Regions from separate parts of the Homo sapiens genome. Here regions 1, 2, 3, 4 and 6 are each linked to region 5. Evidence: fine-mapped expression QTL. A gene starts in region 5. Each other region holds a variant in brackets. All regions are shown on one strand. Distances are from middle to middle. Region 1 overlaps ZNF438 (zinc finger protein 438). Region 2 overlaps ZNF438 (zinc finger protein 438). Region 3 overlaps ZNF438 (zinc finger protein 438). Region 4 overlaps ZNF438 (zinc finger protein 438). Region 5 holds the start of ZNF438 (zinc finger protein 438). Region 6 overlaps ZNF438 (zinc finger protein 438).

Region 1 (5,375 bases), 170 kb before region 5:
AAGGGAATATCTATTCTCATCCACAGATGAAGAGTATGTCAGAGTTAACTTTCCCACCTCCCTGGAGATGGAGTGATGACACAGCCCACTGCTTCTCCTTGCCCCGAGGCTATGTGTGCCTGTGAGTGGTCTCCTTAGGTAGATCCTCCCATTCCAGAGCCGGCCTCCTGGCTGAGCATCCACACGCACTCCCCTCATATTGTAGGTTCGCCCCCTTGCTGTCTTCCTACAGAACCTTGCCTAGCTGGCCCCACCTTGTGCTCTCCACTTCCACCGCCTGTTATTTGGTGCTGGAGAAATCCAACCATTGTGAACGCTGGACAGTGTTCTAAGTTTAAAGTTTCTAGTTCAAAACCGATTCCACAGTCTATTTACTTGTCCCTAAGAGACTCTTGGCGGCCCACATTCCTTCCTCTGCTCTTCTGAGGCACTCTCCCTCTGTCCCACCCCTGCCCTATCCCCAGGGCCATCTCTCTCTTGCCAATGTTTTTTGACATTGACTTCGTGGAAAAAAGAGAGGCTATTATGTGGGAACTCATTCACTGTCCCTTTTATTTGTAAACTCCCTTTTTGTCTTTGATTATGCCACACAAATAAATTTATAAAAACCTTTTCTGTGATGGGGGAAAGGAGAAGTACTATAACTCTAAATATACAATGCTCAAATCCTGATATATTAAAATGTACAAAAAGGTGCATCTGAAAATAAGGAAATGGAGTATTCCCAACCCTGGTCTGGAGGCTACCCTTCCTTCCAGGCCCCTTGTGCCTCGGGGATACTGCACCATTGGTGAGCTCCCCAGCTCTCAGGGAGGCTGGCCTGTGACCATCCTGTCTAAAAGGAGCTGCTCAGCTCCATGTGATCACTTGCTATTTTCTTTTTCTGCTTCACTGTCCTTCGAGGTACTTACCTTCACGATGATATTACATTATCTGTCTCCTCGCTAAAATGTGAGCTCCAAAAGAGCAGGGGTTTGTTTTGTTACTGACAGGGTCTCAGTCTCCAGATCAGCAGCTAGCAGTTGTACAACATAATTTTTACTGAAGGAACGAACTATTAACTCTCAACCATATTGACATGGCTTCCTTCTGCTATGCTACTGCTGAACACAAAAACAGAAAAACAACAGCAACAAGAAAGAGTCGTTAGGCCCCATCTCCTTCCTTTTCTTCCTGAGACAATCTATGGTAGATGTGTACATATACACCGCCTCTACTCATCTATTTCTATTCTTCCCTCGAACCCCTAGAATCCTGAAGTTCTATTTTGAACAACTAAAATGCCCCTCAGTCAGAAGTTAGACTGAATGCTTAATCTACTATCTCAAGTCCTTCACCAATTCTTGGTATTAACACCTCCAGTCCATAGATGTGAAAACAACACTTCTTGCAAGATCACAAAGCAGGTATTGAGACTTGGATTTTAACCCAGGACTGTCTGGCACCAAAGCTGTTCTCCCTCCATTCCAACACGCTGAACTTAGAACTAAGTTGTTTAGCAATTTATCTGTTTACATGTCAGTCTCTTCCAGTGACCGGTGAGTGCCACATAATCCATCTCAATGTTGAGAAAAGAAAGATCTTTTTGAACAACCTTTTTCCAATCACAGTGCAACTGTTAGGAGAGAGAGAACATGTCTTTCTTCTAAGAGACATCTACAGCATGGTCACTGGAGAGGTAGTTAATGAACTCACACATAGCAATGCGCAATACCCTACAGCACTGTATCTATGGCCTTCTTTTAACAGAACTTCTGGTGACCAAATCAGGCTCACACCAGAATCTGACTTTTCTGAAGCAACAATTACACAATACATTTAATGACACTTTTAAGCAGCGACAAAGTAATTCTTCAATGAGTAAAAATGAAGAAAAAAAATGACAAAGGTCTTTTATAATTTTAAAAATAATATACATTTCTTAGATACTTCTTAATCTTACACCACCTTCTTCTAAAACTGATGACACTAAAGAACACTAGGACTGAAAGAAAAGTCTAAAATGCTAAAACAATTTCTAAATTCCTTATGTGGCAAGTCCTGCTCCTTTACTAAACTTGATAATATATCAGTGCTATGGTGTAATGATTTGGATCTGAGGAATTTTCTTTTTGCGGAAGGCTGGGGGAGGAGTTCCTCAGAGAAAACAAGACAAACTGCATTTCGTGTATGATAGAGAGTAGACGTCTGGCTTTGGTGTTTCTATTTATTATACTGCTGGAATGAATTTGAGCAAGATAATAATCCTTCGGCCTTCCTGGCCGTAGTTTCCTCTCTTTAGCAAGAGGGGATTAGATTAGATTAGTGTTTCTCAAAGTAGGGTTTGCAGAACCTCAGGAAGGGTCCCGAATACTCTTTTCATACTCATATCAAGATGTCATTTGCCTTGTGTCGACATTTGCACTTGTTGCGCTGATGGGGTAAAACTTCTCTAGCAACTTAGCCAAGTAAGGTAGTGCCCACAAACTGTTCAAGCAGTCATATTCTTCACTGTGGTACTCTCACAGTGGAACAACAAA[A/G]AAGCAGTACAAAATTTTAGTTTTATAAAATTTTGATCCTTGAGTACATGCCTTTTTAATATTCTGTGATGAAATCGTTCACAGTCAGAGTACATGTCTGCTGCATATGGAAATAGGACTGTTGTTCTGAGGACAAGCACTCAATTCAGCCGTAAAGCTGACCTGGCTACTTTTTTCATGGAATACAATTTTTACTTGAATAAAATGGCTGACAGACATATGCTGAAATATGTTGAATGAACATATTAAGACTTGGGTATCTGGCAGACATTTTCTCAAAAGTGAATGAATGGAACTTGGCATTACAAGAAAGAACTTCTAACAGTATTTGTTGCCAATGATAAAAGTCATTTTCTTTCAAGTGGCAATTGGAATTTTGGAAAATTTGAATTCACCACCAGGAACTTGAAGTTTCCCAGTAGTTACTTTTCAGGTAAAACTGGTGCTTATGGGTCAGGCGCGGTGGCTCACGCCTGTAATCCCAGCACTTTGGGAGGCCAAGGAAGGCAGATCACGAGGTCAGGAGATCGAGACCATCCTGGCTAACACGGTGAAACCCCTCCTCTACTAAAAATACAAAAAATTAGCCGAGCGTGGTGACAGGCACCTGTAGTCCCAGCTACTCGGGAGGCTGAGGCAGGAGAATGGCATGAACCTGGGAGGTGGAGCTTGCAGTGAGCCGAGATCGCGCCACTGCACTCCAGCCTGAGCGACAGAGCGAGACTCTGTCTCAAAAAAAAAAAACCAAAAACGAAAACTGGTGCTTACGTTAATGAATGATTTTTAAAATATCGCACAATGAAGTATATGGAAGATTTGCTTAACTCACTTAACTAGTGTTTTCTAAATGACCAGTTTAGTTTAACGTTACATGCGTGGATAAAAGAATCACTTAAGTATGAGACTCAAAATCTAATAGAATACAAAAGTACATGGACAGGGTTTCAAATTTCACAGTACAATTAAACTGAAAGAAGTTTCCATCTGACAAACTTTGGCATAGTATCAAAGAAAAATATCCATGATTATCTGAAAAGCCTACCAAAATATCCCCTTCCTTTCTGACTACTGGAAAGCTGGCTTTTAAAAAAATATGTCAACATATACAACATCACAACTGACTGAATGCAGGACTAGATATGAGACTCAAACTATCTTCAATGAAGCCAGAATTTAAAGATATTTGCAGAAAATGTAAATCAATGCCAGTCTTCTCATTATTTTTTTTGCTTTAGAAAAATATTTAGGTTGGTGCAAAAGTAATTGTGGTTTTTGTCATTAGTTTTATAGTATAGTCAATTTCGTTAAACTAGGTTATTTTTGTTAAGATGTAATGAGCTGTTATTTCAAAATGACATAAATATTTCAATATTTTTTATAATCACCCAATATGGTAAATATTGACAGATACAACCCATACAAGCAAATGCTCTTTAGAGTCCTCAATAATTTTTGAGAGTGTAAAGGGTCCTGAAGCTACAAAGTCTGAGAACAACTGAATTAGATGAAATCTAACTTCCTATGTCTTTTGAGATTCTATAATTGTGTGTGTTGATGAGTACGAGTGGGCAGGTTTGTGTGAATGAGAATAGAAAATCACATCTAGAAATGTTTTACTTTTTGTTGTTAGGTTTTATTCCCTTCACCTTTGTTTCCTTGAGAATATAACATGGCAGATCAATAGGAGAGAGTTTTGATAATAAAGTATTAAAAGGTAAGTCATCCTAACACAAATATTAATTATAATTAAAATATCACTAGCTGTCAACATTAGAATATGAACCAAATAAAATGCTTGACAAAAATCTTATATAATGTTTCAAAAACTTATCTTACTTAAATTTATATTTATGGAGTATAAGTTATATTCAAATGACATTTATATTTTTCCCCCAATTTTAAGAAATATCATCACAAGATACTCTTGGTAGTATATAATCTTTTCAAAAAACAGAGCAGTGTTTTTAAAGAATTTTTTTTTTTTTGAGACGGAGTTTCGCTTTTGTTGCCCAGGCTGGAGTGCAATGGCACGATCTCAACTCACTGCAACTTCCGTCTCCCCAGTTCAAGCAATTCTTTTGCCTCAGCCTCCCAAGTAGCTGGGATTACAGGTGCCCGCCACCCCACCCAGCTAATGTTTTGCATTTTTAGTAGAGATGGGGTTTCACTATGTTGGATAGGCTGGTTTTGAACTCCTGACCGCAGGTGATCCGCCCGCCTCAGCCTCCCAAAGTGCTGGGATTACAGGTGTGAACCACCGTGCCCGGCCTGAAGGATTTTTTTAAACAAAAAGTATTCAAAGTCATTTAAAATTATTTTATCCAAACAAAAGTAATCATAAGTTGCTCTTCCTAATTAATACAAGTTAGATGCTGGAATTCTATAAATGTTTTTAGGATTTTGTTGCCCATTAATTTAAAGACAAGAACAATATGTTTACTCTATTAAAAAGCATTACTAGATTTATGAATTTCTATTCCTATTGCTATTAGATTTTTAAAAACAGAAAATGCCTATCCTTTATTTTTGGCTTGCATAAAATCCTAAATACCCCTGTCAAACTACTTTGCTTTTATCCCTGCTCAAGCCATCACACTAACCATCTGCATAAATAAAGATGCAAGCATCTGCTATATTGCAAATGGTCTCAGGGGCAGATGTTTCCATCCTTGTGTTCATGTCACTGGGGCTGGATACATTATTTGAACAGATGTACACAATCTGGAAGTGTTGTGTCCCACAGTGAAATGTCTCCAACTGCTTTCTATCAAAGTACATAAATGCTATTTGCACCTGCATTTATGTTAATGATATAAAGGCAGCAGGGGTTCTGACAAAGTGAGATGTGATGCTATG
Region 2 (5,375 bases), 42 kb before region 5:
TATCTTAGAATTCTTTGAGGCTTAGACTTTGCAAAATCATCAACATAACGGATGATTTTCATTCAAACATTACATTCAAAGTCAGTTGAAAATAGCTATGGACTAAACGTTTGTGTCACCTTAAATTCTTATGCTGAAGCCCTAATACCCAATGTGATGGTATTCAGAGGTAGTGCCTTTAATTAGCGTTAGATTAGGTCATGTTGGTGGGGCCCTCCTGATGAGATTAATGCTGTTATAAAAAGAAACAGATCTCTCTCTCTCTCCCCACCCACCACCCCCCATCCAAGTGCACACACCCAGGAAGGGCCATGTGAGGACATAATGAGAAGATCAAACCAGGTCTGCAAACCAAGAAGCAGGCCCTCACCAGAAACTGATCTGCTGGTGCCTTGATCTTTGACTTTCCAGCCTTCCGAACCGGGAGAAATGAATTGTTGTTTAAGCCACCCAGTATGTCATATTTTGAGAGAGCAGCCCAAACTAAGACAGAAATCTTTTATTCAAGATTTAATTTTTATGGCGAACTTACTTTTTTACTTAAATAAGTTTATATTATGTACTAGAATAAAATGAACTTGAGAATGCCTACAATTTAGCAGCATCTAAATTTGGTTAAGATGTTTAAAAGATTTCCATAATAGACACAATTTATTTGACAAGTTTGTCATAAAAATTTTATTGAATAAAGGTGCTGTAAATCGAGTTTACTGTTTTTTTTAATAGTAGCTTTGAAAATGTATGTGCTAGAATATTTACATATTAAACTATTACAAAATAAAATTTAATAGAATTTGCTTTGAACTTACCAGGTACCTCATTATCGACATAGAGATTACATTCTCAAATTTAAAAATCACAATTTATATAGAAAACAGTAACTTGAAAAAAATCAATAATTTCAAATGTAGCAATCACAAAATGCAACCTGAAAAAGACTACAATTTTATGAAGCAATTAAAGATAAAATACAACCGTATTTTTAAAATTTTTTTTCCAGGAAAATACAGAGAGCTGTATTCTGTGGAGCTCCTTAGTACTTTCTAATCTCCCTTATGTAGTATATTATTAGTCAGGGTTCTCCAGAGAAAGAGAGAGATAACAAGATTATAATTATTGTACCTAATAAATATATTAGTACAAATTATAGCTAAGAAACTAAATAATGTAAGCTTTTACTGAGAATTATATTTACGCTATTTTTAATGTTAAAACAGTTTTGCTTTAATGAATATAGCTATATGTTAATATGTTTTAGAAATAACTTTATTTTTAAAATAATTTCTTAATAGGACTATTTTATAGGTTCGCCAATATGATGAAACCAATTTGTCAGTCAAGCAATAAAATTATATAAGTTTACAGTTTTTTAGAAAGAATATCAATTTTGGCAATAAACAGTTAACCTAGATGTGACAGTTAATTTTATGAGTCACTTTGGATAGGTTATGATGGCCAGCTGTTTGGTATAACACTAATCTAGATGTTGTGTGAAGGTCTCTGTGGATGTAATTAACATTTATAATTAGTTGACTTGAAATAAAGCAGACTCCATACTGTGGTGGGCCTTATTCAATCAGATGAAGGCCTCAACAGCTAAGATAAAAGTTACCTGAAAAAGAGGCAAGTCTACATCAAGATGGTAACATAGAAATGCTGAGTTTCCAGCCTACTAGCCTATTTTGCAATTTTTACACTCAAGACCATTACCAACTCTTACTTAAGTATATAGCCTGCTGCTGTATTCTACATGTTTGATTTGCCAACTCCCAAAATCCTGTGAGCCAATTCCTTAAAATAAACTCTATATCTTTCTCTTGTTCTCTCTCTGTTTCTCTGGAGAACCCTGACTAATAATATACTACGTAAGGGAGATTAGAAAGTATTTAAGGAGCTCCACCAAAAGGAAGCTGCTCCCTGATAAGAGTAGAGAGAAAGGGTTTTATTTTAAGAAACATGCAAGTAAAGAAGAATTAACATTAGCATTAACTTCTTTTAAAGAAGAACAGAATCCCAGATTCTATGGCCACATCTTCCTATACCAGAATGATACATAACCCAATAACCCTGACCCTTAGCTTTCAGAGAACAGGGACATATCTTACATCTCTTTGTATCCCCTTTCTAGCAGTGAGTGTGAGACAGAGAAGATGCTCTAAATGGTTGCTGAATAAACTAAAGTCTCAGAAGACATCTCCAGTCCTAAATGTGATTAAGGGGGCGAGAATGTATGCAAAAATATGGATTTTAATGTTTTGAGTAGTATTGTGGTGTTGTCATTCTGAGACTGTTGTGTGTGCACTATAGGATGAAAATACATAATTGTAGGACTTTCCAGTTCTATAAGCACTCATATCCTTGAAAACAGAGGAAAGAGATACAGAAAGAAGATTTAAACACACTATCATCTCCACCATAGTCTCAAGTTTGAATTGGAAACACCAATATAAACTTATGAAAT[A/AT]TTTTTATTTTATCTTCAATATGTGCACATACTTCTGATCTCTGTCTACAGAAAGGGCTGAGAGAAAACATGATCACCCCTTAAACAGTAGGGCTTCTAAGAGAAATAGCTGAATCTAGGACTCAGGAGCTAAGTTTAAGAGGCTTCCATTGGCCAAAGATGGAATAATTTGAGCTTCAGTGATGGTAATACTTGAAATGAATTAACTAATACGTTAAATTCTAAAAGTTCATAATAATATTCTTAAAAAACTGGTCACCTTTAAGAGATGATAGAGAACCAATTCATTATCTTAAGAAATATATCAAAGGGAAAAAATCAAGAATTTATGTTACCTGTCTTTTGAGAACTCTGGGTAACTGAATAAGAAATAAGGACATGTATCTCTTTATAAAAATATTCCAATGAATAAATGAAAAAAATAAAAAGAATTAGAATGTTACTATTTTTCAAACCTTAATGAACAAATAGATACAAATAATATGCATAAATGGCTGCTAAGATCACAAAAAAAGATGCAACCAAACATTGACAGTAGGTTATCCAGACCAGCAGCCTCAGCCTCACTCAGATACTTGCCAGAAATACAAACCCTCAGGTCCAACCTCCAATCTCCTGAATCAGAAGGTTTGGGCATAGGACCCAGTAATCTGCATTTTATTATTACAAGCCCACCAGGTGATTCAGAGGTATCCTAAACTTCATTAAATTCTATGTATAGAACTGCCAAAGGAATCAAATCTGAGTCTGATCCAGTTCATGGACAGCTGCCAATTTATAGGAATTATAGAGGTCAGAGAAACGTGTGGATCTACACCACAAATACGCACACATTAAAATCCAGAATGTGGGAAATTCTACAGATCAAACCTCCCAGGTTCTTCAACAGGTAAACTGTATGAAACTTAAAGGGATGGAGAAGGAACGTAAAGATTAAGAATCTATAAAGTAACCTGTATAGATTAAGAGAGATTGAAGATATATCTTTTTTTTTTTAATGAGCAAAACCAAGAGACAACTTCCAGAATGGAGGAATGAAGAGTGCCATAGAATTTCTCCCCAACAAAAACAATTTAACTGGAAAAAAAATTGTTTAAAACAACCACTTAAACTGGAAATTGTTTGAAGAGTATATAATAAATGGAGAAACATGCATTCAAGAAAATATTCTAAATCTTGGTAAGAGCCTGTCAGTGGCATTTGAGCCATGACCTGCTCCCACCTTACCTCCCCTGCACCTCCAAGCTCTGACTTATGTCTTAGTCTGTTTTACTTACTCGAGAGCTCTAGTCCAGAAGGTCCGGTCAAGAATATGGGGGCTCCTTTTCCCCTCAGCTCCCAAGCTGGGGCTGCATTTTCACCCTGGTAGAACAAGCCACTGGCACTGTTCATTTTCCCTAGCCCTCTATGGTAGAGTTTCTATTCTGTAGAGGCACAGCTGAGAGGGCCAGGGCTTCCTTACTCTAGCCAGCCCTCATTTGTGGGGCAAAAGTTCTACTCTAGGTGCAGCAGGCTGAAAACACTGGGCTTCTATCACTCCTGGATCAACTTGCTGGTGGGGCAAAGGTTCCATATCCATAGGGGCAAGCCAAGAAGACAAGTGGCTAATGCCCATGCTCCCAACACCCTTTTATAGCAGGGGTGTCACTCTGGAAGAAGTGAGTCACTATTCCTGCCCCCAGTTTCTGTGCAGTGGTGCAAGGTTCTACCTGTGGGGAGATGCAGACTGGAGACAGCAGCCCTTAAGGACAAAAAGTTCCTCTGCTCTGTCTGAGGGAATTGACATAGTTAAGAAGGTGCTCATGGCCCCAGGATACAAGCAGCAACCAACAAATTAGGACTATCAGAAGTTTAACAGAACTAGAAAAAGAGACAGCCAGCTCACAGTAAACACAGAGGTCAGGAAGGCTGTGCCCAAGTGGGAGGCTGCATCCACTTGAGCAATCAGAGCTTGATATGGGCACAAGCCACACAGATCAATTAAAAAAGGAAGCTTCACTGTCACTCGGGGGCTGAAGTATAACCTCTGATCAAACAGTGGCTGAACAATAAGCTCTTCTGCCCCAAGATCAACTCCTAGGAAGCCAGGCTTTAATATGAAAGTATCCCTGGCAGTTTACTAGACTGTGGGCATGCTCAAGGCTTGCTTCGCTCAGGAGTGACTGGGAATGAATAATCCAAGCTACTAATCTATGGCTGAACATGGGGCAAAACAAACTTCTTGCCATCTGCAAGACCCTTGCCAGATGTTAGTACCTTACTCTTGGACTTCCCAGCCTATACACTGTAAGAAATAAATTTATTTTTTGGTATTCTGTTATAGCAACAGAAACAGACTGAGACATAAAATTGGTACCAAGACGTAGGATTTTTGCTATAATATCTGAAAATGAAGAAGTGGCTTTGGAACTGGGTAACGGGTAGAAGCTGGAAGACTGTGGAGGAGCTGGATAGAAAAAAACCTGCATTGCCATAAATGGAGCATTAAGGGTGATTCTGGTGAAGGTTCTGAAGATGACTAGAGAAACTCTGAATCTTCTTTTTTTTTTTTTTTTAAGACAGTCTTGCTCTGTCGCCCAAGTTGGAGTGCAATGGTGCAATCTCAGCTCACTGCAACCTCTACCTTCCAGGTTCAAGTGATTCTCCTGCCTCAGCCTCCCAAGTAGCTGGGATTACAGGCATGCGCCACCAAGCCCCACTAATTTTTGTATTTTTATTAGAGGAGGGGTTCTGCCATGTTGGCCAGGCTGGTCTCAAACACCAAACCTCAGGTGATCTGCCTGCCTTGGCCTCCCACAGTGCAGGGATTACAGGCGTGAGCCACCGTGCCCAGCCTGAATCTTCTTAGAGATTACTTAAGTGCTCATGACCAGAATGTTGATAGAAATATGTAAAGGTCATTCTGAAGAGGCCT
Region 3 (5,375 bases), 190 kb before region 5:
TGCCTCACGCCTGTAATCCCAGCACTTTGGAAGGCCAAGACAGGAAGATCATGAGGTCAGGAGTTCGAGACCAGCCTGCCCAACATGGTGAAACCCCATCTCTACTAAAAAAAAAAAAAAAAAAAAAATAGCCAGGTGTGGTGGCGCATGCCTGTAATCCCAGCTGCTCGGGAGGCTGAGGCAGGAGAATTGCTTGAACCCGGGAAGCGGAGGTTGCAGTGAGCCAAGATCATGCCACTGCACTCCAGCCTGGATGACAGAGCAAGACTCCAACTCGAAAAAAATATATAAAATAAAAATAAAATGCATTTCCTGCAAAAATGCCAACTTCTGTGGTTCCTAGTAGTTTCCATCCTTGAATTCGGCACTTAAGATCTGTCTACTCAAGCTTTTTACAATCTTTTATATGGTACAAAATACCTCTTCTCCCAAGTCTGGCCAAAAGCCTAATAAATACCAGCCACCAGTTATCACATGGCCCACAGGTGCCAGGCATTTCGTGTGTGTCTCTTTTACTCTTCACAACAGTGCCTTGACATAGGATTGTCACCCCCATTTCACAGAGGAGAGAATGGAGCCTAAGAGGGGACACTCTCTCGAGGCCACACACAGTAAGTATTGGAGCACTTTGTTGCACACCACACCACCTCTGGCCTAAGTATACAGGTTGGGACTGTTCCAGTAACATCTCCACACCCAAGAAAGGCTCTGAGCTGTTCCCAAAGTAACTTTAGCTAAATACTCTCTCTCATCTTCCTGCCTCCCCAGTAGGAGGCCCTCTTCCCACCATTCTCAATGAAGCACTACCAGTAAGGGCCAGAAACTCCTTATTTTGGGTGGCACTGGGGCTGTCTGCATTGTAAGGCAGGGGAGTTTTCAAAAGCTGAGAACTGTAACACTGTACCACAAATGAACCCATACACACTGACATCCGGGGAGGGTCCTATGCCCCACTAACCTTCCTTATCTTAAAAAAAGAATTTTCGGCTGGGTGCAGTGGCTCACGCCTGTAATCCCAGCACTTTGGGAGGCCGAGACGGGCAGATCACGAGGTCAGGAGATCGAGACCATCCTGGATAACATGGTGAAACCCCGTCTCTACTAAAAATACACACACACACACACACAAAAAGGAAATTAGCCGGGCATGGTGGCGGGTGCCTGTAGTCCCAGCTACTCGGGAGGCTGAGGCAGGAGAATGGCGTGAACCCGGCAGGTGGAGCTTGCAGTGAGCCGAGATCGTGCCACTGCACTCCAGCCTGAGCAGCACTCCAAAAAAACAAAAAGAATTTTCTTAAAGATGAGTGTCACTTTTTCATGGCTCCCCACCTGCGCCCTCCCTCTCCCTATGGATCAGTGCTCTGTTGAGTCATCTAAATTTAGTTAGTACATTGGAGCTGCTGCTCTGAAATGCTCGGAAATGCAGCTGCTCTGAAATGGGGATCCAGCCAGAGTGCTGAATCATGAGCCAATCATATCTTCTCCATACCTTTGCTCTTTTCCCCATTCCTCACTGTACTCCTTTCTGGAGACTGCCTATGGCCTTGCTGTAAGAATATGTGGGGAAATAAAGGCCACAGGTGGGCTCCTGCACAATCTAGGGGACTTGAGACTTTCCCCGAGTGCTGGGTGGGTGTATTCTGTCCCACACCTTTGTCTCCACACACTCCACTCTGCTTTGGCCAACCGGCCAGTGTTTCTAAAATACGACTTAGCATCTGAGGATTGAGCAGTCTATGAATTATTTCATAGTTTGAATTCAAGTTTCATGGTTTGAATTCAAGTAGTATTCTTTGTAGAAGTCATTTGGTAATGTCTTTGAGACCAATATTTCAAAAAACAAACTGGGAACTGGTTTGAATGGTAAAGCGACTTCATTATTAACCAAGAAGTTCTAAAACTATCAAACAGTGGAGGTCTGATATTCCCTATTTGAAACTGGGTAAAGCGTGATCAACAGACAAACCACAACACAATCTTTCAGATATTTCTATCCCTACTCTCTTATTCCCAAATTTACAAAACTATTTGCAAAAAGACAAAGATTAAGTTTTCTCTTGTACTATTTGAGGCAAATCATGTCTACAAACACTGGCTTTTAAAATCAGACATTAAAAAAAGATGTAAGATCCATCAGCTTATCAATTAGAATTTAGTTCTTTCTCTGTTTAGGTAACTTCCTTGAGCACAAAATATTATGACCATACCTGGGCTGAGTTTCAGCAAACAGGGCTGGCCACACGTATGGTGCTTTCATCCAAGACTGAGATTATCAGTAGGATGAGTGCTGAAACTCCACTTTTCTAAGAAAATGATTTTGCAGCCAGGATGGCCAGAAGCTTCAAATGACAACTTTACTGATTCGAGGTAATTTCCCAGGAATTTAAGAGGCAATCATTTACTTCTGACTTTCAAAGAGAACTGGGCTTGAAAAGTACAGTTCCATCTAAAATTGATCAGCTAGCGACAACCCTCTGAAGTTACTTGGGAGTGAGGGAAAGCAGTTGAGACCCCTACACATCTGGACTGAACTATCTAGTTCATTTTCCAGGTTGTAAATTTTCTGGTCCCAAAGACTACTTGAAAATAACTTTTTACCAAGCAAGTAGACTTTTTATTAGCTGAAGTACTAAATTTTTTAAAAAATTATTTTGATATGGAACACTACAGCTATAAGACTTGCCAACAACTAATCTTCAATGAAATGTGCATTTAAGAAAATAGCAAAATTACAAGAAACAAAAATCTGAGTCCTGAAAACATGGATTTTAAATTATTGTAGATGACAATCTTATTAAAATACTGCTCTATATCATATTCAAATAAACCAGAGAATTTAATAAATATCAGCATTTACCATCTAACTTGATACTATGGTTGAGATTAAAAGGGTTTTGCTGCCTGGACATTTTTGACATTTGTCAATCTATATAAGCAGAAAACATCTGAACAAAAGGAAGGACACATGCATGTTTTCACTGAGAGCTGTA[T/C]TTGAAGAACAGCCTATATTCTGCTAAATTTCAATCTTCAAATTTTGATCTTTTTATTTATTCTGAAAGTCTAAGATATTAAGAATCAGTACGTATTTTAAAATAAGACTGCATATAGTTAGAAAAATATGCTTCGAGAGCTTATATTTTATTTCGTTAAGAAAATAAAACCATGTACAAAAATCATTTCTGTTCACTCACACCAATCCTGTTGTTTGATCTTTGTGACTAAGCACCACCATAAAGCACGAAGCTCTGAAGGAAGGTGGCGGCAGAGCTCTCTCCTTAACCCCAGGCTGCCTTGGGGTCTCATTTCTCAGCTTCACTGGAAAGTTCGATCACTCCCTGGTTGGAGACCGTATTTAAAATAGCCCACAGTTTGGAAGGGTCCTCACAGTTATGCTGGTGCTTCCAGTGGTGGAGGAGGTCCTCTTTCCGTCCCAGCATCTCTGCACAAAGCAGGCAGTTAAAGCCTGAATGGGACCACAAGAGAAACGTGTGGAGGCCAGGACACTCAGGGCCCTGGCAGGTTTCCCTTGGCTTGTTGGTTCCTGACTGGGGTCCTTCATTTTCCATGAGCATTTCCACGCCATTCTGATGAAGGTGGAGCTGCCTTTTCAGTCTTGGACATGCATGTGATTCCTCGGAGGAGGAATGAACCTTCTCCGGCTTCCCTCTCTCAGGATGCCTTTTCCAGTCGGGGCTAGCGTGCTGCACCAACTCTTCCTGAGTCCCCTTGCTTCCTGGGAAGGTCCCTTCTTGTAGCCTGCCCTCAATTTCCTCTCCATGAACATCAAGTAAATGAAATTTTATTTCCGCAAAAGACTGAGCAGTAATCTGACAACGACCACATTTGATTTGTAATTTGACTTCGTCTGCCTGGTTTAGAAGGAAGTCTTCTTCCAGGTTGGACTTGTTTTCCCTGAAAAGGCCAATAATAATGAAGATAAGATTTCATGGAAAAATGCAATTGGAATCTTTCCTCTCAGCTGTCAGCCTTCAGGGATCTAAAACATAACACTGACGAGAAAGACAAGGGCTGGGGTAAACAGAGAGCACCTGGGAAGACCTTCTGCAAGGACCGTGGTGAATACTAATTGTCACTCCTGCTTGTGGCCACACATTTCTCCAGCTACCAGGGTTCATTTAGTCAACAGTCCTCTTCACGCATCTGTCCCAGGCGAGCTAACTCGTCTTTGGTTACCACAGGGACAGGAGCAATCACGTGGAAGAGTCACGTAAGAGCGCGTGAAGGGCACGGGAACACCCTCGGTTCTGTTGAAGGTAACGGTCCCACCCTACCCACTGTGGCTCTCCCTAACCTTGAGCACCAATACCTTCTATTCAATTTTGGCTCACTCTGTCATGTTCAGTAAAAATAAAGGGTGCCTACCCTATTTCTTCCTTGCTTTTCTAGAGTTTCTCCTTTTTCTTAGACATTTCTGTCCCCTTTAAGACCTCTGTGCCTTTCACTAATGAACCATGAAACCTCACTTCTTCCTTCTTTTCCTAGAGTTAGATTTTGATTTTTAGGTACAATGTCCAAACTACATTTGGCAAGAGCGTCTGTTTTCATTTGGGGAAGAGGAGAAGATTTCATATTCAGAAAGGAGCCAGTGAGCACCCAGCTGAAGGTGCAGCCGGGACTTGTGGGGCTAGTCCTGAGAGTGTCAGGTTCATTTGTGCAGGGTTGGCCAGGGCCACTGCACCACCTGCACCTTGCCTGCTGTTGCTGCTGGGAAAACATGGAGAGGAGGTGGGCAGTCCCTGAAACCTGCCGCCATGAGAGCCACTGCGATGGGGCCAGGCTGAGTCACCTGCTGGCAGGGGAAAACAGCACACTAGGGCATGCAGGAGTGGGTAGAGAGGGGCCCTGAGGCAGAGCTGGGCCAGGGGTGGTGCCACACTTCATGGAGCCAGTGGGAGCTGGGGACAAGCACGAGCCCTGCCCTTTCCAAGTTGACGGTGTGGGAGCTTACCAGGCACAACTGCCTGCAGCTGCCCAAGCTGCAGCTGTGACCCAGGCACCCCTGTGCTCTTGGAAGCTGGGAGCAGGCAGGAGCGCTCCTGCCCTCCCAGGCATCACTGTAGCTACCCTGCTGTGGCTGCAGATCCAGGCATCTCTGCACTCTCAGGGGTCCAGGAAGGCCCCTTTCCCCCCACGGGCTCAAGAAGCACCTGCTCCTGCTGCCTGGCTTCTCCCTGCTGTCAGCACCTGCTCCAATCTCAAAGCAAGGCTGGGGCTGAGCCTGGGCTCTGCTGTAACCTGGTTGGGTGTGCACACGCTTGAGGCAGTGCTGATATGCCCACCTCCTACCCCATTGGCCTGCTCCAGACTTTGGGTGCCAATAAGCATGGAAGGGAGGCTGAGGAAGGGGTGCTCAG
Region 4 (5,375 bases), 160 kb before region 5:
CAAGTGGAATTTAAGCCAGGGGGTTAAATTCAAGATCAGTCTGGCCAACATGGTAAAATCCCCTCTCTACTAAAAATACAAAAATTAGCCACGTGTGGTGGTGCGCTCCTGTAGTCCCAGCTATTCGGGAGGCTGAGGCAGAAGAATCACTTGAACCCGGGAGGTGGAGATTGCAGTGAGCCGAGATTGCACCACTGCACTCTAGCCTGGGTGACAGAACAAGACTCTGTCTCAAAAAAAAAAAAAAAAAAAAAAAAAAAAAAAAAAAAAAAAAGAGGTCAGGCGCAGTGGCTGACACCTGTAATCCCAGCACTTTGGGAGGCCGAGGCGGACAGATCACGAGGTCAGGAGATTGAGACCAACCTGGCTAACATGGTGAAACCCCGTCTTGACTAAAAATACAAAAAATTAGCCGGGGGTGGGGGCAGGCACCTGTAGTCCCAGCTACTTGGGAGGCTGAGGCAGGAGAATGGCATGAACCTGGGAGGCGGAGCTTGCAGTGAGCCAAGATCGCACCACTGCACTCCAGCCTGGGTGACAGAGTGAGACTCTGTCTCAAAAAAAAAAAAAAAAAAGAATTGACTCCAGTAAAACAGACTCTCACTTGACTTAAATGAAGATTCCTTCCTGACCAATGAACAATGAGACTTGCATTAACCAACTGTGTAGGAACTTAAAATTCATTCTGACTACCCAAGATACAAACTTCAATGGTCAATTGGCATAATCACAGTGAACTACTTCTTAGCACATAAGACACATACATTGTCCCTGTCAGAGAATCATTTGGTGATACTGCTCACCTGTATGAGTTTTCTTATATGGGAAGTAAATAAATTCACTTGCATTTTTAATCAGTGTGGTGACTTTGTCTTTCTTTCACCAAATCTAAATAGTTGGCCTTATTATGTTGTTTTCATGCCTCTTTTTTGAAAAACACAGTTTAGCTCATCATTTGAAAATAACAGACAAAAAAAGGAGGTTATGGAAAACTAAATTCTATCCCTAAATCCTGAAAGAATGATATAGAAAATTGTAACAAAATAAGTCTCATGAACATCTCAAAATTCTATAAATTATATTCTCACACAGAAAGGAATAACGGTGACACTAGTTTATAATAGAAAAATCTGTAATATAGTATAACTTATCGTTAGAGTGACAGTACAATGTTAAATCTCTTTATCTGAAATTAGATAACATTTAAATAGAAGAAACCAGAATTTCAAATTTGTTTTCTCCATTAATAATGCTGCCAGCTCTTCCTAGCTTTAAACCCCTGGCTTAAATTCCACTTGCTTGACTTGTACATATATGTTAATATCCTGAACAAATGTCATCTCCTCCATTTTGTTTCCTGACCAGCCTCAAAATCTCTGGCTTAGCCAACTGTCCTTTCATTCTGATTTTCAAAGTATGTCATACTCACTTCTAGTACAGCATTAGTCATGCTTTATTCTAATTAAGGACATGCACATATGCTGTTCCAACAGGATTTTAGAGCCTAAAAGCTCAGGCTCTGTATGATTTACCTTTGGATTCTTCATAGCATCTGATAGTTCCTCGTATGAATTACCTTGGTGATCATTAAACCTGCTTCTACCATATGAACTTTGTTTGGGGACAGTATGTTAGTACAGCATATTTTCCTTAATTTAAGCCTCACAACTCTGTTGGTGATGTCTTATCTGAATTTTATACAGAAATGCATATAATACGTGTGTATGTGTTTATAAGTTGGAAATTCAAAGGTATCATAATTTATAGCTAGCCATCAATGGTTTGTTAAATAAATCAATCTGCATTTAATTAATAAATAGCATGTGCCCAGCAAACTTCTCATGTCACACAAATTATGTACATGCAATTAAACAAATATATATGTAATATATTACGTGTGGGTGTGTGGGGGTGTGTGTGTGTATATATATATATATATATATATATATATATATATATATATATATATATTTAGAGACAAGGTCTTGTTCTGTTGTCCAGGCTGGAATGCCATGGCATGATCATAGCTCACTGCAGCCTCAAACTCCTATGCTCAAGCAATCCTCCTAGCTCAGCCTTCCAAGTAGCTGGGACT[A/T]TAGGCATGAGCCATCACGCCTAGCTAATTTTGAAATTTTTTTGTAGAGATGGAGTCTTGCTATGTTGCCCAGGCTGGTCTCTAACTCCTGGCCTCAAGTTATCCTCCCACCTCAGCCTCCCAAAGTGCTGGGATTACAGGTGGGAGCTGCTGTACCTAGCCATAAATTATATTTGATCATAAACAGAATCATAATTAATACATCTGATGCTTTTGTTAAAAAATATTAATATTAATCTAAGACATACAGAAAGCATTTGAATGAATGAATGAGTAAATTAATGAATAACTGGGCAATTCATAGGACTTACATGTATTCACATATATTATTTTTCCTTATTGATGTAATTTTCCATAATTTAAGTTATAATTTCTGCTCACTTTGGTTTAAAATGGCTTTAAGCATTCATATGTGTAATTAAGCATAGTATGTTTGATGAGAGAAAAAGGAGATGATCAAAAATTATTAGAAATATTCTTTATAAATTGTAAATTCTTATAGAAATATCTTTATAAATTAAATATTCTTTATAAATATATATTCTCTATAATTTATATAAATATTCTTTATAAATTTTATGATAGATCTGAGTTCAAATCTTGGATCAGTCACTTACTGGTTGGTGGTCTTGGCAAAAAGTACCTAATCTTGAAGTTGTAAAATAAGGTTTACGTCTAACTTATTGTGAAGATTAAATAAAGGATGTAAAGTTGTAGGTAGAATGATTATCACAATGGAGGCACATGATTGAGGTTTTTTTAAGCTATTATATATCCTCTGTCAAATTCCAGGATTGGGCTTAAGCATCTTTAGTCCCAGAAAAGACTGGGTAAGGAGGTTTACTTGAGCTCTGGGTAGGGCCAAGGGGTCTTACTTTCCGGTCAATGGAAGTATCCAAGCTTATGTGATAGCCCAGAGAGGTAGGCATCAGAACAAAACAAACTGTGATGAGAAGCAAAGCAGCCAAGAGGTGTGAGTGCTTTCTCCCTCTGTATCAGCCAGAGCCAAGCAGCTTGTTGCTTAGTTACTCACATAGACTCACCTTTTTAGAGCCTGAAAGGAACACCTAGTCATTCTCGATTTTTCAATGAGAAAACTGAGGCTCAGGGGCAAAATAACTTTGCCTGGGGTTCCACAGCTGGTTGGAGGCAGGTATGGAATGGAGTCCAGCTTTCCTGATACTTGTTCCATTATTTTTTCTCCTAAGCTTCTCCTTGCTTGCTTGGATAAAAAAAGGTAATACCAGCTAGGACACTGAATTTCAAACCCTTCATCAGCTACCAAGTGCTGCACAAATCTTCCAGAGGATATATACCAGAGAACACTCAAGAAAAACACATGCTCTTTATTTCTAGTTGGGGTTTGCCCATCTCCTTTCTTGCCCTAGTGTTCCCGGCTGGATTTTGTGTGAGTCTCAAGGACTCTCACTCTCTCTTCGGATCAACTCCTGGGTAAGAATCAAACCAAGCGGTCTAATTCCTGCTTACTCCCCATGGGTCCCCTTGGAGCATGTTTGGCCTTCCAAGGCCATTAGGCATCCCAGGCAAGAGGCGGCCTCATGGCCATCTCACTGACCAGTCTCAAAGATGAGGATGTCCCAGATATTAATAATAGCCATTGAGAATGGTAGTTTTATCATCATATAAGTGCCTACTATGCAAACAACAATATGCTAGGTGATTTACATATGCTATTTCCTTTAGTCTCCACATATCCTATAGAGTGGAACTTATTATCTTCATTTTATAGATTTACAGATGTGGAAGCTGAGGTCAAGTGATACACCTAAAGTTTTACAGTTAAGTGGTAGGACTGAGTTTCAAATCCAGATTCCATGTGCTCAAGAGTTATGATACTACCTTTCTCACTGGTAGAGAGATCAAAGGGTGTTTGCTCTATTTAAGGGTCCTTCATAACAAATTCCCTCCTTTCACTAAAAGCTACATGTTCCACTAAGGCAACCTAATTTTGCCTCATTAAAGATATGTCTTTTTTCTCATACATGTCAGAACTTCTCTTCTGTGTGGAAGAGACTAGATGGGGCAGGGAAAGACTGGTATTTCTCCCCGGGGTTAGAGTGTACCCTTTATGGTGAGGGTAATTTAATTACTCTTGATGAAGAAAGGACTCTACCTCCATCTGGAGGTACAGGTTCTTCTGGAAGGTCCAGAAGTGCCTGTTAAAAAATCATTATTTTATTTTTTATACATTGCAAAAAGTAAAATAGTTTTTCTATTTCTTTTTAAATGGATATCAGGGGAAACAGGCAAAGAAATGTATACACAAATTCTATATCCTCTAAGTGTATGTCTACAGATGTGTGTGTGAATATATATGCATATATTCTTCTACTCACTAAAATACTTGTGTTATTTTGCTTCAATAAAGCCAACACTTTTTAATTTTACTGATATCTGTTAGTGCCAGTTAACTGCCAGTGAATAAGCAGGGCTCTGTGAGTTTTGGGTGGAATGAGATGGCTGGGCTCTCAAGGCGCTATAGCCTATAAAGGAGACAGGTCCTTAAAACTCAGGAATCCATATACACTCAAATTATTTACCAAAAGAAATGAGTTTTCATATATAATTATAATTTTTATTTTTAATTCTAGGAAATAAGTTACCTTATGATTAGAGGTCAATGACATTCAATGTATCAAATTAAAACTATAACAGACTCATCACCATTTTCCTCAGCAGTTTAACTTACCTTCATCTTTTGGTGGTACTGATACAGAATTCTGCATTATGATGTACTGGACTTGAATAGTATCTTTCCTAAAAATAAGCAAGCACAAATAAGTATTAGAAAGTAATTGAGAGAGCATGTTAATGCATACTAAATATAGAAATTCTAAGCTGTTTTTTAAAGTTTGTTTTATAACTATATGAGTAATAAGAAATGGATTGAGCTATTAAGAATTGATGTTTTTATTTTCTTCTCATTTTTCTACAAATAGGATTTTATTGAATGTACTAGAATGGGCTTAGAGACAGATGCAATGACACATCAGGGGCCTTAGTCACACTTCTGCTCTCATGGGGTCATGTGTAAGTAGGCAAAGTTAGGATTCTCTGAAAATGTACTCTCTGATAATTGCTTCATATACTTTAAGAAGAAATAGCTAACATGCTTAACAGTATAAAGGTAATATAATTGTAATATAATCATTTGATGAAATATAACTCAGTCATTAAAATGCAACTGTGAAGATTATGTAGCAACATAAAAAATGTTAATGATGCGATGCACTGGATAAACATGGATGAACATGCTAAA
Region 5 (5,375 bases):
TAAAAAATCATCACTTCTCCCTTTTCTTCAAATTCCACATCAGCTCGTTTCCCGTCAGCTCTACCTTCAAAACGTATCACCAATTCTACCGCCTACCATCATCTCCACAACTAACCTCCCCCAGCCCAAACCACCATCATTTCACCTGCAGGGCACAGCAGCTTTCTCCCGATTTTCACTCCATCCGACCCACTCTAATCTACAGTTAATTCTCCATACAATAAAACTTAAATCAGACACCAGTCCCTTGATGCAAACCTTCCAATGGTTTTCCATCACAGTTAGAACAACATCTTTACTTCACCACAGCCTACAAGGGACCCCACGGCCTGCCTGGCCCTTGACCATCATTGGCCACTACTTTCCCCGTTCCCGGCTGTGCTCTAAACACTCTCACTGTGTCTGGACCACCTCAGAGCATTGTCCTGTGCTGTTCCTGCTGTGAGGCCGAAAATACAGTCACCTGGAGCCTGGACTCTGAAGTCAGACTGCCCACGTTCAAATAGTCTCTACCACGTTTTAGCTGTGCAACTTTGGCAAATTCTTAACCTTTCTGTGTGTCAGTTGCCTCATCTATGAAAGGGAGATACTAGGTTACATCAAAAGACTTGTAAAAATTTAATTTAGTGTTCAGAATAGTGCCTTACATATGGTAAGCTCTACTTTTTTTAAGTGTTCATTGCTATTAATTATTCCTCTCTGAAATGTTCTTACCTCAGGCTCTTTCCCTCACACTTCAAGTGTCCCTGCCTTTGAATGGCTTTTCCTGACAGATCCCACCAAAAACAACCTTCCCTGTTCCCCCACTGTCCTCCTTTCTTCCTTCCCTTCACTGCACTTATGACTACCTGAAATTACATTATGCACGTATTGTTCGTTGTCTATTTCCCACTGCAATATGAGCCCTGCTAGGTTGGAGGCTGTCTTCTTTGCTGCTCTATTTCCAGAGATTTCTGACTCACATCTCATCCAGGCTAGGGGACCAATGCGAATCTCCTAATAACAATAGCACACTTAGCCTTTCATTTGCACTCTCGTGATCTCATTTGATCCTGGAAAAACCAACAAACAGATAAACCATCGGCTCTCATTTTAGATAAGAAAAACAAAGTTCCAAGTTTGCGTGACTTGTCCTTGGACACGAAGCTAGTTAACGAATAGAACAAAAATTAGAAGCCCTGCTTTCTGATTCAAAGGCTCTTCCTACCTGGATGAAAAGATATCACACTCCTGAAATGAATTTACAGAAATGTGAACTCTCGAGCTCCTGTATAAATACACCCTGAAGTGTGCACAGTATTCTTCCCTTCAAAGTTCCTGAAGACTACTAGTCCCGGAGTTTGAGAGGCATTATAGTCTAGTAATAACTAATCGATAATGTAGTACCCCTTGACCAAAATATTCAAGCAGTCAGATACGATGATTGGATATTCCAAATCGATACAGCAATCCTTAAAACTCAGTGAGTCTGTGTTGTCTATAATGTGCTAGTTCCAGCACACTGAAAGCTTCCTCTGCAAAACCCAGACAACGGGGGCATTGTAATTGCCAAGAGTACCGTGCTAACGATACCTGTTATTTCTTGGGATCCCCATTCTATCAAGTTTAGTGACAACAGTTCGATCACCCAACAGGCTCCAGTGTGGTATAGAATCAGATGGAGGGAAGGTTGTCGGGGGGAGGCAAAACAGTGAAAAAGTTCCCCTTCTACAAGATTCCTGGTCAAATAGCCAGTGGCTACCACATTCCTCAGAATAACCAAGTGTCTGTGTATAAGCTTTCTCCTAGCAAATTTACACACTTGTGTTATCTCACGTGTTCCTAGTGCTGTGGGAACAACCATTAGGGAGGCCAGAGGCTGCTGTACCTCCCTTTTACACAAAAAAGAAAACTGAGGCAGCAACTGGTTATCTTATAAATGTGTCCACGATGACTTGGTCACTTGTGGGATCCCAACGGCCAGGACATAGGATTCCTATTCTCTGAGAGGAAGCTTCCATCCCCTACTTAACATGTCAAACTCCAAGGCTGAGAGGGGGAAGAAAAGGAATCTAAGTCCCTTTATCACGGAAGAAAAAAAGGGACTCTCCATTTGGACTTTCCGCCCCTTCTAAGGCCTCGCTCCCAGGCTCGGAGACGCGCCCCGCCCCAGGGGAAAAGGTGCTGGCCCGGCCCCACGGGGCGCGGCCTCGCCTCCCGCACCCCAGGTCCCTACCGCCCAGCAGGGCGCGCTGCCACTCTGAGCAGACACCTGTCCCTTCGCCACAATCGGCGACTCCCCAAGGAACTGACGCCCCCAGAGCCACCACCACCGCCGGGACTGCCAGCTGCCAGCGGGCCCCGCAAGCCCTAGGAGCTGCAGGAATCCTCGTAAACTTACAGTTTTCCTACAGCGTGCGCGTCACAGCGGGGTGACGTCACGGGCCCAGCAGTCGGGGAGGTCAAGCCACGGGGCGCGGGCCGCTGGGCCCCCAGGCTCCGCCCTCGCCCCGCCCCGGCGCCGCGGCGGGAGACACGCCCCCGAGCTCCACGCCCTCGAGCTCCACGCACCTCCCCGTAGCAGACACCCCGCGCAGGCGCAGACGGCCTCTGCGCCCGCATGCCTGTGGGCTTCGCCGACCGGGGCGCCTGCGGCGGCGACTGCTCTACCAAAGCCTCACTCAAAGCCTGAAGTCGGGGTTAGAGGAGGAGGAGGGGCCGACAAAAGGGGACGGAGACCTTCAGAAATACTGTAAACAAGCTGTCGCCCTGGGGGCTGGAGTAAGACGCCTGGGTTGTGAGGTAGTTTTTCCACAGACATTGCCCGCCTTCCTCACGTGTTCGTTAAAAGTTCTCCACGTGTGGAAACAGCCATTTGCTCTCCATCAGGTGCTGGCGGGTCCTCAGCCCTGAAAAGACAGCTCTCCCAGGGTCCCTCGCTCCTCCCCGGCTCGACGCGGCTCCCGCTAGACTCCGCCCAGACCCCGAGCAGTCCCCGCCCATCTCTTGACTATGCCCCTCCCACGCCCACTTAGGCCTTGCCCCTGGGTCCCGCCCTTCCGGCTCCCGCCCCTGGCTCCCGGCTCCCGCGGGCCCCCACCTGCCCTTCTTGCCCTGGCGCCGCCTCCAGCCCAGCCCGTTTCTTGCAGATTTTAGCTTCTCCCTTGCCTGCCGCCTTTCCCGTTTCGGCTCGGTGAAGCTACCTATGGGTTGCTGTTCATTTAACAAACGGTGATCCGGATAAACATGTTCACTTCTTCGCCTGGGCAAACTTTCCAGCCCCCGACCCACTCATGTCACGATACCTTCCCGTGTCCAAGTCCGGCTCTCTGCTCCCCACTTTTTTTTTTTTTTTTTTTTGAGACAGAGTGTTTCTCTGTCTCCCAGGCTGGAGTGCAGTGGCGCGATCTCAACTCACAGTACCCCCTGCCTCCCGGGTTCAAACGATTTTCTTGCCTCAGCCTCCTGAGTAGCTGGGATTACAGGCGCGCGCCACCACAGCCGGCTAATTTTTATGTTTTAGTAGAGACAGGGTTTCACCATGTTGGCCAGGATGGTCTCCATCTCTTGACCTCGTGATCCGCCCGCCTCGGCCTCTCAAGGTGCTGGGATTACAGGTGTGAGCCGCCGCGCCCGGCCTCTTTGCTCTTTTATACTCTCAGAAGCAATGAGTTCTGGTTAAAAAAAAGGGCTCGATAGACGGAAAAAATGAAGGCTTAAAGAACTGACAACAAAATATTAACATTTGGCTTGTGGAATTCTTACACTCTCGTAAGCAGAAAAAACAAATGTTATGGCAAAAAAGTGTCTCAGACAAATCCGTCTTGGGGGGAAAAAAATTAAAAGAATGAGAAAAACAGACTTCGGAATAAATAGACCCAAAGGAGGAAGTATTGAAAATGGCAAGATTCACTTTTACAAACTTATTTGGAACCACGGCAGATGGCCAGGGCAGGGATTTTGCAAGGCAGCTCCAGTTGTAAGTAAAACCTGAAACAATGGTTTATTTCCACTCTCATTGAAAGTGCTGTCTTATTTTTACAGGAAAGAGTGATGATGGGAATATTAGGCTTTAATTCGAGATCTGAGCTGGTTAAAAATAAAAACGTTTATTATTCCAGAAAAATCTACGTCAGTGTTTTTAAATGTTCTGATTTGAAAAAATATTTGTATATTTTATCTGAATATTAGTTATTATCAAATGATGTAAAAGAAATTTGTAAAGGCTGTACCATAATTGTAACAATAAGGTTTTTCTGTAGAGCAGAGGTATAGAAAAATTAACATTTTTTAAAGTCCTGCATATTTTTAAAACAGTGATATTTATGTTTTTCCTTGCAAAACAATTTTAAGAAACCTTTAAATTGTTAATAGTTTACATGCTTATAAAATGTTTTATATATATCATTTCTAAAAATCGTAATTTTTTTAAGTGAGTTTCTAGGTATACCTTATGGGAGTGTTTCACAGGTACATGTCATCTGTTATTTTTTGGAGTGGAAATGGGTAAGAAGCATACACCAAATGTATCAAATGTTTTTACTATAGATACTTTTGCCTCTGAAAGATGGCATTGTAGAATATAGTCTTCTCATCGTATTGTTCAGTATACTTTCTCTTGAAATCTCAGGTATTCAAAAAAAAAAGTCGTTGTTTTGCTAGATGCAGGAAAAAAGTAAACGCAGTGAACAAAAGATGGCCAACAGTAAAGGTACCCAAGCAAGGATCACAGTCTCAAGGAATGTCAAGTAGAAATTTGTGGGAAAATACCACTCACGTTCAGTCAACTTTCTGTAACAAACTGGAATTTGACCTAGACAGGAAGTGAGAAGCTAGGGCCAAAAGTGTTGTTATTAAAGAGAGGATCTGCTTTTTTAAAGAAAATAAAACCCTGGACCTTGGAGGTTTAGCACTGGAAGCACTGAGGCCCTCCACTATGGCCCTTGGGCTTTCAGTTCCCCCTTGTGATTCTTTCTCTTTGATATCTGCTGCCCATAGCAATCTGGCTTCCAGAGCCCTCTATGTCAATACACACATCTCTTCCCTTGGTCCTGCTTAGCAAGCTAAGAAAAGCTGAATTAAGACAAAACAGAGTACTTAATGTATGGGGAAAATAAAAGTGAAAGAAATATAATTCCTAATATTTCCTGAGTATTGATTCTGTGCCAAGCATTGCATTATTTCCTTGAATTCTTGCAACTAGATAAGAACTGTTACTATCCCCATTTTAAACACAAGGTAAGTAGGTTAAGTGCCCATGTCACACAGCTGCTGAGTAACACAGTCAAGATTCCAGACTTCATACTTCAGAACCCACAGCCATAACCACTAATCTGTCTCAAGTTTCATACAACCAGGCACAAATTATGCAAGAAACAGAGGGACTTAGGAAGTCC
Region 6 (5,375 bases), 140 kb before region 5:
AAATTAACAATAACTAATAAGAAAATACAACAATTGTAACAACATATAATGTGTGAATGTGAACACATATGTAACAACATACAAAGGTTATGTGAATGTGGTCTCTATCAAAACTCTATCTTATTGTACTGTATCTCAGGTAACTGAAATGAGAAGAGAAATCACAAATAAGGGAAGACCATTGCATTTATATATTAAGAATTTACTTACATTGCTACAGTCTTCAAAAACTTTTTTTTAACATTCTGTTTGTATATTGATTAAAAATATGAATACCAGTCCAAAAAAAAAAAGTTCAAGCACTAAAAAAAAGAGAATAAATTGAAAAATAAGTCTCCTTCTCATTCTATTCCCCCAATTCCCCTCCTCAGAGGCAACGGCTCAACAGCTCTTTGCACCTTTCTGGGCACCCTTTCAGAAATGGTTTTATGTTTACAGAAACTAACACATAGAAATAAGCTCTGTCCCCTGTCCGTATTTCCATACTGAAGCAGATTATACATGCTGTTCTTTTTTCACTTAATATATTTTTGAGAGTTTGCTATCTCAGCACTTATAAAGCATCTTCATTCTTTTTAAAGACTGCATAGTATTTGATTGTGTGGAACCATTATTTTTTAACCCACTGGTTGACAATTAGATTGTTCTTAGCCTTCTGCTCTTACAAAGCTACATACAGTGTGCACCCTTGCATGTACATCTTTGCTAACACGTGGGAAGTCTATCTGCAGGAAGTCACAGTAAGAAATTTCTGGGTTGACTTAATATTTTTCTAGATTTTGCCAAACTGTCCTTCAAAGAAGTTGCACTGATTTATCTAACAACGCATGAAAGTGCCTCAAAACCATCACTTGCAAAAATTGCCATAGGAATTTTTCAATCAAATACTCAAAACGTTTAAGGATTCTAACATGCCTATGTAATTGTCTCAACTTTAGCTGAATATGCAAACACTGTATTTTACTGAAATATATAAACAATGAAAACCAAGTTTCCCATCTCCAGGACTTAGAAGGGTGATTGTTTATGGGAAGTCCCACCAACAAACTACAAATGGGAAAAGGAGTCCGTTGCAAGAGACAGTGCTGCTGCCCAACATCACCAAAAGGAAGTGAGCATTAGTGTTCATGCAGCATGACACATTAGTTTGTATCAACATTTTCTTGCTATGAAAACAACTTGATTTCCTAATTGAAAAAGTCAAACCACATAACATAATTAGAGAAAACATTGTTACATATTTGAAAAAGTAGCCTTTTAAAATGTTTTTCTTTTTAAAACATTACAGGTACAGTTTTAAGATGATTTTATAGTGTAAAAATCATGCTCCTTTATGTAAGATGAAATGGTGTCTTGACTGAGGTGCTACCAGCTGAGGATATGTGAACCCAATTAACCCAATTTTTAACTTGTCCATACTAAGTGGTTTATTTTAGATGTACACTGCTCCCTAAATCCTTTAGGGTACAACATGGAAAAACTATAAACAGGCTATAAAGGTCATGACATTAATTTTGCTGTCATTATCATACCTTCAGAACGCATTCAAAACTAAAAAAGTCTTATCCTCTGGGAAGGAAGGCAAATCTGAAACTAATTATGGTAGTTATTATTGTAATACTATTAAATTAAACACTGTGACCCTAGCTAAATTTATTTTGGTACATTTTGTTAATGAATAAAACCACTCAAATAATACTGTACTGTTGCACACAGCAAAATGGTACATCAGAGGACTAGAACAAAGTAACCACTCAAAAACTTGAATTTTCATTAACCTAGAGCTTAACTGGAACATTTAATGTATTAATAAGCATCCATGGACTCTCTTTGCAGAAGATGCTCTACTTGTTACAGGGGTTTATTTAAGAAGTAAAAACTTCACATGGGTAGAATAACCATTACTATTTATTTAAACCCAAAAGAAAATAAAAAGGGAAAATATCTCAGTAGCTTCTTTTTCTGAGTAAGTTTTTAAGAATCAAACTGCTTCGGGTGTTTGGAGGACTAGACAGTCCAGAGGCAACATCTAGGCTTAATAATTTCCTGCCAGTTCAGGTTCCTACCGTCTTACCAACACCTGGCCTGAGCACCAGGTGGGAGAGGAAGCCGCTGACCCAGCACCTGGGAAGTATTAATGTGTGTGTCCTCTAGTGCCCTGAAACGAGAATCATAGCCACACAGACTCTGGCAGGCTCATTTTAATCCTTGTAAATGCTGGAGGACAGCGATCAGGGCTGAGGACAGTGAATAATGAGTCTGGGTGGGTGGGGAAGAAAAATTAGGCAAGGAGAACTATCAACATCTGTGTAGAACTAACGATCAAGAGAAAGATGAGTAAGTAGCAATCACAAAAGAAAGAAAAAGTAGGAAGAAAAAAGGAACAATGGCAACATTATTATACAAGGAGAAAGAGCATTTGAAGAAAAAAAATCACTTAAATTCCAGTTTCTTTAAATATCTCAGAAAACCATTCAAGCACTGGTTCATACACTCTTGCAGTTAGAAAAGATGCTTATAGTACTTTTGTGTGCACGGCTGACAGTCTTGATAGTCTATAACTACTAATTGGTATAAATGGCCATGTTGCTAGTCAACTTCAATAGTTTATTAAAATTTAGGTTGGGATAAAGTTAAATATTTGAAGAGCATCTTTATTTCTCTAAATTTGAAAGTTAACCTTACAACAAAAATTTCTAACTCGTCTCTGTTTAGAGGTGTTAGCAGACTATGAGGCATTAACACATAGGAAAGATGAGAAAAATCAGAACGCAGAAGGCCCTAGAGGACCATTTTTTTCTTGCAAGGATTTGTTAAATAGTTTACTTGTGGATACTCAAGGATCCTAATTAAAAGGATACAACTAGGTGTGCTTTCCTCTTCCTTTGTTTTCCT[A/G]TATTTGCCCATGTCCCCACAATCTATTTCTAGATCCACTCCTCCAACTGCATTTTGTACTCCAAATGTGTACATTTTCACATTAGTGGATGAAGCAACACTTCGAGTTAGGGCATGATGGTGCTAGCCAAGAGTTCACTTTCAGGAGTAGTCATCTTTGTCTTGCAGTAGTTATTTTATAATTATTTAAATATTTCATTACATTTTGTTCTTTAGAAAAATTAGTTTGGGTGTTTGGAGATGAAAAGATGGAAAGTAAATGTGACTGAGATGACACCAAAAACATAGGCAGCAAAGGTAAAAATAGATAAACTGGACTATACCAAAATTTAAAACTTCCATGTATCAACAGATACAATCAACAGAGTGAAAAGGCAACTTATAGAATGAAAGAAAATATTTGCAAATAATTATCTGATAAGGGATTAATATCCAGAATATATAAAGAACTCCTATGACTCAACAAAACCCAAATAACCCAACTTAAACAGAGCGAAGCATTTGTATAGACATTTCTCTAAAGATGATGTACAAATGGCCAACAAGCATATTAAAAGATGATCACTAATTAGAAAAATGCAAATCAAAACCACAATGAAATAACACCTCACACTCATTAGGATGGCTACTATTTAAAAAACAAAACTGAGAAAATAACAAATGTTGGTGAGGATATGGAGGAATTGAAACTCTTATTTACCATTGGAAATGTAAAATGGTGCAGCAACTATGGAATACTGTATAGCAGTACCTCAAAAAATTAAAAATAGAATTACCATATGGTCTAGCAATTCCACATCTGTGTGAATGTCAAAAAGAACTGAGGCCAGGCACGGTGCCTCACGCCTGTAATCCCAGTACTTTGGGAGGCCGAGAGGGGCAGATCATGTCAGATCAAGACCATCCTGGCTAACACGGTGAAACCCCATCTCTACTAAAAATACAAAAAAATTAGCTGGGCATAGTGACGGGCACCTGTAGTCCCAGATACTTGGGAGGCTGAGGCAGGAGAACGGCATGAACCTGGGAGGCAGAGCTTGCAGTGAGCCGAGACCGCGCCACGGCACTCCAGCCTGGGCAACTGAGTGAGACTCCATCTCAAAAAAAAAAAAAAAAAAAACAAAAAACTGAAAGCAAGATCTCAAAGAGATATATGCACATCCATGTTCATAGCAGCATTTTTCATAGTAGCCAAGAAGTGAAACAACTCAACTGCCCATTGACAGATAGATGGATCAACAAAATGTGATATATACATACAATGGATTATTCAACTTTAAAAAGAAAGGAAATTCTGACACATGCTATAATATGAATGAACCTTGAGGAGACTATGTTAAATGAAATAAGCCCGTCAGAAAAGGGCAAACATTGTATGATTCCATATATATCAGGTATCTAGAGTAATTAAATTCAAAGATAGACAGCAGAATAGTGGTTTCTGGGGGATATGGGGTTGTGGGGAGGAGGGGAGGCCGGAAGAGAAGAAACCAGGGAGAAATTGGGAGTTGTTTGATGGGTATACGGTTCCAGTTTTACAAGATGAAAAATTCTAGAGTTTGGCTGCACGACAATGTGAATGTAATTAACACTACTGAAATGTACACTTAAAAAGGGTTAAGAAGGTAAATTTTAAGTTATGTGTTTTTTACCACAATAAAAAAAGTAAATGTGATCATAGTACTGACATGAAGCATAGGCCTTGTAAACAATATTAAGTTTAGGCAAAAATGGCAATCACTCAGGGTGTTTTATGTGGCAAGTCTTTTAACTTTTACTGGAAGCATACTTGACTTAAGCCAGGCATGTGCTCAACTGTAAAGAAAAATGATAAAACTAAAGAATATTTACAAAGTATACAATATTCATACTAGACATACATCTATGTCAGAAAGAATGACATATTCTTTTTGAATTGTATAATGTTTTACTAGTACTCTGGTAAAGGAATATCTTCTTAGCATATGTCTTTTTGTTTGTTTTACTTTTACACACTGTATATCTGGGTAGTTTTTTGAGGAACATATTTTATACAAAAGTAAATACTGCCTATAAAAAGGGAAGTACTAGCCTAGGGCTCTTCAGGCCATAGGATATCAACACAGCCACTCTGAAGATTGGATCTGGTTAACTTCTTTCTATATTCCCCCCAATACTATCACCCCATGTTCTCTGGTGAGTTTATTAGAAAGGCAGGGAGTTTCAGGTAATCTTGTTCAGAAGGCCATCTTAGTATTAGCAGCTGACAAAAGATCCAGTGCTATAGAGCAAGTGCTTCAACAAATAACATCTTCTCAGCTCCAGATTGGTCCCAGCAGAGGAGATTCCTGACCTCCCTTAAATCTATCACCACCCAGCCACCTCCACTCCCCAGGCTCTGGCATTAACAAAGCTGGCCTGAAAACAGCAGGTTAACCCAGTGGTTCCAGATTACAATCATCAGATGAAAATATGACATCACAGAGATGAGCTGTAAACCC

What was found.
Region 1: its variant is fine-mapped to the expression of ZNF438 in whole blood (TOPMed, PIP above 0.99).
Region 2: its variant is fine-mapped to the expression of ZNF438 in whole blood (TOPMed, PIP 0.98).
Region 3: its variant is fine-mapped to the expression of ZNF438 in whole blood (TOPMed, PIP above 0.99).
Region 4: its variant is fine-mapped to the expression of ZNF438 in whole blood (INTERVAL, PIP above 0.99).
Region 6: its variant is fine-mapped to the expression of ZNF438 in whole blood (TOPMed, PIP above 0.99).

Annotation. Positions count from the first base shown.
Region 1 is chr10:30,863,583-30,868,957 of GRCh38, forward strand. All of the region lies in intron 5 of ZNF438 (zinc finger protein 438), which reads right to left. Among named protein-coding and RNA genes, the nearest start is that of LINC02644, 140 kb to the left of the region's middle. The variant A/G (reference allele first, on the strand shown) is at 2,520.
Region 2 is chr10:30,987,417-30,992,791 of GRCh38, forward strand. All of the region lies in intron 1 of ZNF438 (zinc finger protein 438), which reads right to left. Among named protein-coding and RNA genes, the nearest start is that of ZNF438, 42 kb to the right of the region's middle. The variant A/AT (reference allele first, on the strand shown) is at 2,462.
Region 3 is chr10:30,841,662-30,847,036 of GRCh38, forward strand. It overlaps ZNF438 (zinc finger protein 438), which reads right to left. Exons shown (of 7, transcript NM_001143768.2): 7 at 2,971-3,912. The coding sequence ends at 3,300. Among named protein-coding and RNA genes, the nearest start is that of LINC02644, 120 kb to the left of the region's middle. RefSeq lists an enhancer at 5,101-5,375. The variant T/C (reference allele first, on the strand shown) is at 2,991.
Region 4 is chr10:30,872,193-30,877,567 of GRCh38, forward strand. It overlaps ZNF438 (zinc finger protein 438), which reads right to left. Exons shown (of 7, transcript NM_001143768.2): 5 at 4,806-4,873. The coding sequence starts at 4,842. Among named protein-coding and RNA genes, the nearest start is that of LINC02644, 150 kb to the left of the region's middle. The variant A/T (reference allele first, on the strand shown) is at 2,096.
Region 5 is chr10:31,029,453-31,034,827 of GRCh38, forward strand. ZNF438 (zinc finger protein 438) reads right to left here and starts at 2,413. Exons shown (of 7, transcript NM_001143768.2): 1 at 2,381-2,413. It overlaps LOC105376481 (a long non-coding RNA gene), which reads left to right and starts at 3,056. Exons shown (of 3, transcript XR_001747410.3): 1 at 3,056-5,375. RefSeq lists a silencer at 2,075-2,634.
Region 6 is chr10:30,892,301-30,897,675 of GRCh38, forward strand. All of the region lies in intron 4 of ZNF438 (zinc finger protein 438), which reads right to left. Among named protein-coding and RNA genes, the nearest start is that of ZNF438, 140 kb to the right of the region's middle. The variant A/G (reference allele first, on the strand shown) is at 2,896.